Regions from separate parts of the Homo sapiens genome. Here region 1 is linked to region 2. Evidence: fine-mapped expression QTL. A gene starts in region 2. The other region holds a variant in brackets. All regions are shown on one strand. Distances are from middle to middle. Region 1 overlaps ITPRID2 (ITPR interacting domain containing 2). Region 2 holds the start of ITPRID2 (ITPR interacting domain containing 2).

Region 1 (4,276 bases), 22 kb after region 2:
TTCACTTCTAAATCGTTTAAATGACTGCATTATTCTTTTGTTGCTTTAAGGAAATGGGTATCATTGATTGAGGTCAGCAAACATTTATTCTCAGCTTATTCTAGGTACTGGGATACAAAGAAGAATAGTTTCTGCCTTCAAAAGGCTCACAATCTAGTTTAAAGATATGAAAATACGTAATTATAGTGATAACTGCTATAGCATAAGATGTTAATCATTTTACCAAGAATATAATGCCTTATCAGTACTGGTGGTAACAGCTTATTGCAGTTCAGTTTCACAAGTATTCCAATTTACGTAGGCTTATCAAGGATATGGAATAATTCCTTATATTTCATTTTGCAGTCTTGTTACTATCAAAATGATATTACAAAATTATTCTAAATTTTTAATGGGAAAAATGTATTCCATGGAAACTGAGTCTATAGTGGGGTATTTTTCAAACCAAGTTGACTTTAATAGATTTTAAATTTTATTTAATTATATTATCTGGCTCTTTTTCTATGTGGTTCATATCTTAAATGAATATGGTTTTGGTAAACACACTTTATTTAGCCTTTTGCTTTTGAAGTTCTGCAGAACTTTGCTGTCTCTTGAAGCTTCTGCCTTGATGAATGTAAGAACTGTACAGTCTCTCCCATTGTGGTAGTTGTAGTGTGGATAGAATGTGAACATACTTGCTATGCTTAGTTGGCCTTTTTACTTATGTAAAACATTATAGATCATACTAACCAGGAATTAGAATTTTGAGGCAGAAAAATAAGCAGAAAGATTTTATAAGATTAACAATATTATGTTGTAGTTGAACCTATTTGGTTGAGTTTTATGTAATTTTTATGAAAGAATTGTTTCATACCTTATACATTTGCATCATTTAAAACATCATAAAACACCAGAGACATTTAAGTATGCTTGCATTTCAGATTATTTAATTTACTGGCCTTAATTGTATTTATTTATTTATTTATTTTTTTTGAGACGGAGTCTTGCTCTGTCGCCCAGGCTGGAGTGCAGTGGCACAATCTTGGCTCACTGCAACCTCCACCTCCCAGGTTTACTCCATTCTCCTGCCTCAGCCTCTCGAGTAGCTGGGACTACAGGCACCCGCTACCACGCCTGGCTAATTTTTTGTATTTTTAGTACAGACGGGCTTTTACCGTGTTAGCCAGGATGGTCTCGATCTCCTAACCTCGTGATCCGCCCGCCTCAGCCTCCCAAAGTGCTGGGATTACAGGCATGAGCCACCGCGCCCAGCCCTAACTGTGTTTTTTAAATTGGGAAGATAATAGAAATCTTTACACACTATGCTCTCTATATGAACTTCTAAATTTACCTCCTAAATATCTTTACATATTTACATAATGGAAATGGTTTACTTTGGGACTTCTGTTTTTATTAGAGCCATCTTTTACTTCAGTTTTCCTCCAAGGATAAAACATTGATTGGATTTACCAAAATAGATTATAATTAGAGCTTAATTAATGAGCGAATACCGAGAGATTCTAATAGAAGATCTGATACAGTTTTTGTTTGAATTTGAGTTACCTCCTGTACTTTGAAGACATAATTTTGCATAAGTAATGCATATTTTTCTAAGAAGCAGTCAAATATTGTGTATCTTATATCTGCTGGGAATCATATCTCTGTAGTAATATTGCTCTCAGTAATTTCTTATAGCCACTTTTTTTATTTATAGATCATCTGTTTCTTATAGCCACATTTTTTTATTCATAGATCATCTGTTACGTACTGCAAGTCAGCATTCCGATAGCAGTGGTTTTGCTGAAGATTCTACAGACTGCCTATCCCTTAATCATCTTCAGGTAAAATTTTCTGTTCTAATAGGCACTATGATTAACTTCCTCA[T/G]TTTAAGGTGGTTTTTGTATTACTATATATTTTAATATTGAGTCTGTATAATCTTTATTTTTCAAGTGACAGAACAAAACTCCTGGCATGTAGATGTTATCTAAGCATTTGACTATAAATTTTAGATTTCATTAATTCTTCTCTCTGAATATGTTTTTAAAAATATCTATCTTCCCCTTAATTTTTGGACCACCAGTAAACAGAGATTATTGTGATCATTAACCTGTTTTGTCTGTTGTTTTTCTTATTTTTTTAACCATCATTATATTTCATTATTTTACAGTAATTGTTTTGCCTATTTAATAACTGACATTAATTGTGGACCTATAGCTTGCTGAGTGTTATACTGATTTTTACACTAGGTTGTGTGAGATAACCCAGAGAACAGGCACATCTTTATCCCCAAGAAGCATATAGTCTATATGTAGAGTACACAGAATGCACAGAAAAAGCATTTGAAACATTTTTTAAGCAAATTCTAAAGAAAATTGGGATGAGAAAACTCCCAAAGAGCCTTTAGGAACATAGCATTTAAGGGGTAAACAGACAAGAGGCATATGTAAGTTCACTGAGAAAGAGTAATTAAGTGAACAGAAACACTGGGAGATGGAGGAGAAACTTTCAGAAGGTATGGAAGAAAAGATAGGAATGTTGACTGGTTTTCAAATATGAATGATAGCTTAAGAGTGAGGGGTCTTTTTGTCCTTTTATAATAACATGAAATGACTTGGGGAAAGTGTTCAGCTAAGGGAAATAACCGTAAGAGAAGAACTGATTCAGAAAAATCCGGGCTGAAACTGGAGAGATACCCTGGTCTTGGAGAGGATATGATCAGGAACCCAGGTTGGAGGGATTCGCTTTGAGTTTCCTTTCAGAATGGAGAGAAGGAGGGAATGATGGGGAGAGATACAAGGAAGTTTTTAGATGTTGGGGAAGAATGTTAGGAAGTGTTTGTCCATTTTCTCTATGAGTCAGTGTGTTGTATTGAAAGGAAAGGGGGAGGTTGTTGGAAAGGGAATTTTAGGAAAACAGTGAAGTTCTGAAATAATCTTTGTGAGAAAGTGAGAGGAAGGAGGGATGTGGTTGCTGCTCAGGAGCAATAAAACAATTTTGAGCAACAGCAGGGCCACAACTGCAGTGGAGACAGTGAAATTATAGAAGCACCATGTTGGTTTGGTATTTTGTTAGTGACTCTTCTTACATATATTCTTCATCTTTCCACCTATTTTCTTTTCACAGGTTCAGGAGTCCTTGCAGGCTATGGGGAGTAGTGCTGATAGTTGTGACAGTGAGACAACAGTTACGTCACTTGGTGAAGACCTTGCCACACCAACAGCACAAGACCAGCCTTATTTTAATGAATCAGAGGAGGAGTCTCTTGTCCCTCTTCAGAAGGGACTAGAGAAGGCAGCAGCAGTTGCAGACAAAAGAAAATCAGGTAGCCAGGATTTCCCTCAGTGCAACACCATTGAGAATACAGGAACTAAACAGTCCACCTGTAGTCCAGGGGATCATATCATTGAAATTACTGAAGTGGAAGAGGATTTGTTTCCAGCAGAGACAGTAGAGCTACTGAGGGAAGCAAGTGCTGAAAGTGATGTGGGTAAAAGCAGTGAAAGTGAATTTACTCAGTATACCACACACCATATTCTGAAATCATTGGCTTCTATTGAAGCTAAATGCAGTGATATGAGCTCTGAAAATACAACTGGGCCTCCCTCTTCCATGGACAGAGTTAATACAGCTTTGCAAAGAGCTCAAATGAAGGTTTGCAGTCTGTCTAATCAAAGGATGGGGCGTAGCCTGCTAAAATCAAAAGATTTGTTAAAACAAAGGTACTTATTTGCAAAAGCTGGCTATCCTCTAAGAAGGTCTCAGTCTTTACCAACCACCTTATTGAGCCCAGTAAGGGTTGTGTCCTCTGTCAATGTTCGATTATCTCCAGGAAAAGAGACCAGATGCAGCCCACCTTCCTTCACCTATAAGTACACACCTGAAGAGGAGCAGGAATTGGAAAAGCGGGTGATGGAACATGATGGTCAGTCTTTAGTTAAATCGACCATTTTCATCTCTCCATCATCTGTGAAGAAAGAAGAAGCCCCCCAGAGTGAGGCGCCGCGGGTGGAGGAATGCCATCATGGAAGGACTCCTACCTGTTCACGGCTTGCTCCACCACCAATGTCTCAGTCTACCTGTTCCCTTCATTCCATCCACTCTGAGTGGCAAGAAAGGCCCCTGTGTGAGCACACAAGAACTCTGAGCACTCACAGTGTTCCCAACATATCAGGGGCTACTTGTAGTGCCTTCGCTTCCCCTTTCGGGTGTCCTTACTCACATAGACATGCCACCTACCCTTACCGAGTGTGCTCTGTGAATCCTCCTTCAGCCATAGAAATGCAGTTGCGAAGAG
Region 2 (4,276 bases):
TATAAGCATTATAGAAATAACATGAAGCAAATTTTAAAATAATCAATTTAGGTGTCTCTTTGAAGAACACAGAAAACAGAAACTACCTCAAGAAGACCCATTATCCCTTGTGGGATCAGCATTTAAAAGTGTAAGGGGTGCAAGAATACTGAAGAATGTTCTATCATCTCTCACAATTTACAATCTGGCTAGTAAGCCAAACATACCTTCCAGGGCCAGTCATATTATTTACTCTACAATCCAGTCCCCAAATAAATGACATAGACATGCTGTTGTATATCAGATCCCTGTGGGAGGGGTGTGATCAGGAGTGGTGGAATGGTGGAGTCAAAAAGTTCTGGCTTAGCTAGATTTTGAAAGTCATGAAGGTAGTGGACAGAAAGAACAGGAATGAATTAATTAGCAAAGACAGAGTAGGCAACAGCACTTAGATATGATAGAATTGAAGCTGGGAGCAGCAGAGGAACAGGGTGGATACGTAAGAACCCTGGATAAAACTTTGAAGGCAGCATATTTTGTGGCACTTGACCAGCCCTTTCAATGCTTCTTCTTAGGTACCTTCTTTATTCATTCTCTTTTTCATCTTCCACACAGGCAGCGAGACTCTGACCTATTTTGGAGAGCCATTAAACTGTTAGCTGCATCCTACTACAGGACCCTTGAAGGCTGAGAAAGTCTTATAGGTTCAAAGAAAAGATTTTCTAGTAGTGAAATTTCAAGCCATAGAGATATTAATATCACTGTTCTAACTCCCCTGACATTTGGCAGTACATAGATGAGACTCAGGAGAATATTATGATGGTTCTGGAAAGCTAGTCTGGATTTTGGATTTGATCTTGGGGATATTAGTAAACCATTAGAAGATGTCTTGGAATTGTAAATCTAGAGCAATGCGCTAGAAAGGAGATAGGAAAGAATGAAGGCAGGAAAATCAGTGTGCTATTTTAGTAGTCTATGACTTATGTGTAAATGCCTGGACAAAAACTAGGCACTATTTCATCTCCAGAGCATTCTTCATTCCAAATTCTCCAAAAGTTATGGTTTCCTGTAGCTATCAATGACAATGCACTTAATTACCTTGTAATTCGAATGCTTCCATTAGGAATTTTACTATGCTCTGGATTTTAATTTCAAATGAAAAATAATTCCTTCCTTAAAATATTTTGTCTACGCAAAATATTCTTTTCAATCACGTTAAGATTTTAAAAAGTGTTCTAACTTGTTCTTCAGAGCATAGCCAAGTACAATAAAATATTGGAAGCCTTACTTATATGTATAGTTCAGATGTAACATTTAGGGGAACAATGCTGCTTGATAGGTCTGTCACATTGTGTCTGGTTTTGGATAGAATTTGAGTATTTTTGCTAATGAGAATTTAAACATAACAAAACGGAATGCCAAAGCTGGCTTTAAAAAGTTTTGAACCCTGACATCATTTGTTTCTTGTATCATGCTGTCTCACCAAAATCCAAGCAACTATCTCCACATTGTCCCAATTGTTTCCTCTATTCTCCCTCACCAAAGTCCAACTTCAATGTGAAATTTCCAGATTAAATATCCTTTCACAATTCATTTTCATTCATAACATAAACACGATAAATAACTTTAAGTATGAAAGTAGCACTCCAGGAAGCTTAGTCTTTTGCAGTTTTTACATTTTGGCAACACCAATCAAGCACCTCTTTCCGTCCTTACCCCAATTCCTTGGACACTAAAGAGTCTATATTCAGGCGACTCTTTCAAGTGTATGTTTCAGGGTGCCCAAGCAGACACTTGTTTTCTCGCGGGGGATGTTTTGTGAGACTTGGCCTCCCCACTTACGTTCTATTTTTAGGTGAGGGAGGAGGAGGAGGAGAGGAGGAAAGATTATTAACAAACTAATCTTGCCCATTCCGCGGGCAGTAGTCGGGGGCTGGCCTGCTCCGCGTCGCGCCGGGCGCGCCCCGCCCTACCGCGCCCCGCGCGGCCCCGGCCGGAAGGGGGCGTGGGCCGCCGCCGAGGGAAGGCGCGCAGACGCGCAGCGGCCGGCCTGCTCCGGGCGCGTCAGGCAGGGGGTGGGGAGCAGGGGCCGGGCGGGCGCTCGGCTCCCAGCCGCGCTCCCTCGGGCCACTAGCGCTCCCGCGCGCGCCCGGCCGCCTTCATGTGAAGCGCCGGCCCTCCGCCCCTTCCCTCCCCTTCCTTCCCTCCCTCCCTCCCTGTCCCCTCCTCCTCCTCCTCCTCCTCCGGCGCCCGCTTCAGCTCCCCGGGGCCCCCTGCCCGGCCGGGCGCTGACAGCAAGGGCGGGGGTCCCTGCCGCCGCCTTGTCTCGCGCAGGGTCCGGCTGGGGTAGCGGAGCCCCCAGTGCGGCCATGGACCGGCCCCTGTCGTCGTCGGCGGAGGCGGAGGAGGAACTGGAGTGGCAAGTGGCGAGTCGCAGGAGGAAGGCCTGGGCCAAGTGCCGCAGCTCCTGGCAAGCGTCGGAGACGGAGGATCTGTCCACAGAAGCGACGACGCAGGACGAGGAGGAGGACGAGGAGGAGGACCTCCCCGGCGCGCAGCTGCCGGCAGCGGGGGGAAGAGGTCGGTGCTCCCGGCCGGGCTCCGGGGGGAGGCTGGTGGGCTGGGGAGAGTCTCGTGCGCCCTGGGCGCCTGCCACGAGTTCTGGGAGAGCCTCGGGCACGGTAGGCCGAGGGGAGAGGGGACACTTCCGACCTTCAAACGCGCGCGCTGAACGAGGCGCCCCCAGCGTCAACACAGACAACTGGGTGCCATCCGATTTCCCTGCCAAGGGACACTGAGACGTGTCGCTTAGGCTGCATTTGCCGTGGTAGATTTTCCTACTTGGGAGGGTCCAGGGTGACTCCGCCGTCGTAGTGCTCCTGGGTGGTAACGTGCTGTCCCCTCTCTCTACCCCCAGGAAACGTGCCCAACGAGAAGATCGCGATATGGCTCAAGGACTGCCGGTGAGTGCTCCCTGGTCCGCCCGCGTCCCGGGGGAGATCCGTGCGGACGGGACGCCGGAGCAGAGCCACTCGGGCCGCGTCCCTGTGGGTCCCGCGACCGTTGTAAGCTACAAACCGGAAAGTGAGCCGGCGGATAGCTTCCTCCTCTAAGCGATTAGAAATGGAAGTGCTGTGACCGCTGATTATTTGGTGACCGTGTTGACTTTACAGTTAGGACTTGAGCTACTCACGCATCGTGTTAGCATCAGAGATCAGAAATCCAGAACAGATAATCATGCCATATTTGTTCTGTTTTTATTTGAAAGAATTCTCACATCTCGAACAGGATATTTTGTTTTGCTTTAGTTTTGGCATCTGTACAACTGGCACGGAATCATTTTCCTTTCAAATGTGTTTTAGACGAGTTTAATTTACCTAACTACACTAAATGGGCTTTAATTTTGTTTCTGTTTGGGGAGCTATTAAAACTAGCTAACTTTGTACTTATAGTTTACTTCTTGAACATGGAATTGTCAGATGGCACTGGAATTCTCAGGGAATAGAACTTTTAAAAGCATTCAGACTGCATAAATCTGTTTAATTACATGCTTTGGCAACTGGTACAAAAATGTTTGATAAAATACAGAGGAGATGAATCATGTTGCACGTAAATCTGACTACAGCAAAATGTACTTGTTTCTTATTCCACTTTGCTAGTTGTAAAATCAGGAATGTAGCCTTTAAACTTTTGTTGGTGTTTGCTTTCGAGCATATTTTTGCTTTCTCAATTTAGATTTTCTTAATATTTTGTTCAAATATTAGAGTTAGGGTAGTTTGTTTTGTTTTGTTGTGGAAAGTGATTCATATGCCAGTTTGCCTCCTCTAAAGACAGACAAGATATTGGCTACCATGATATTAATGCCTTGTTTTGATGAATCGACTGGAACCTTATTGAACACTCTTTATTACAGAACTCGTACCCTTTATTGGAAGTGTCATAGACCCTTCTGAAATATGATGACATATATGGAATAACTTCTGTTTAAAGATGCACAGAGGCAAATACACTGCTTGAAGTCCTTGGACCCCAGATTTACAATCTAGCTGTAAATCAATCTCCCAGTTTTCAGATAAGCCTTAGATATTAGATACTTCACTCAAAGTATGGATCAAGAAATTGTATTAATGTGCTATTGGTTCATTTAATTGTTAAATACTAAAATAGTCTATAATGTAAAAGCTTGAAATTTTGAATGTACATGTTCAAGACCTTTTGGGTGAGATCTGATAAAACTAGTATCTTTCAGGTTTCCACTTAGAAATGTGTTTGAGAAGTTGTTTTGTAACTTTTACTT

What was found. PIP is the estimated chance that this variant, and not a neighbour inherited with it, causes the effect. A credible set is the group of variants that fine-mapping cannot tell apart.
Region 1: its variant is the best candidate, but not a certain one, in a credible set for the expression of ITPRID2 in whole blood (INTERVAL, PIP 0.89).

The regions. Positions count from the first base shown.
Region 1 is chr2:181,912,111-181,916,386 of GRCh38, forward strand. It overlaps ITPRID2 (ITPR interacting domain containing 2), which reads left to right. Exons shown (of 18, transcript NM_001130445.3): 10 at 1,735-1,823; 11 at 3,106-4,276. Among named protein-coding and RNA genes, the nearest start is that of ITPRID2, 23 kb to the left of the region's middle. The variant T/G (reference allele first, on the strand shown) is at 1,867.
Region 2 is chr2:181,889,719-181,893,994 of GRCh38, forward strand. ITPRID2 (ITPR interacting domain containing 2) reads left to right here and starts at 2,012. Exons shown (of 18, transcript NM_001130445.3): 1 at 2,012-2,559; 2 at 2,897-2,942. The coding sequence starts at 2,349. RefSeq lists silencers at 1,889-2,218, 2,509-2,648.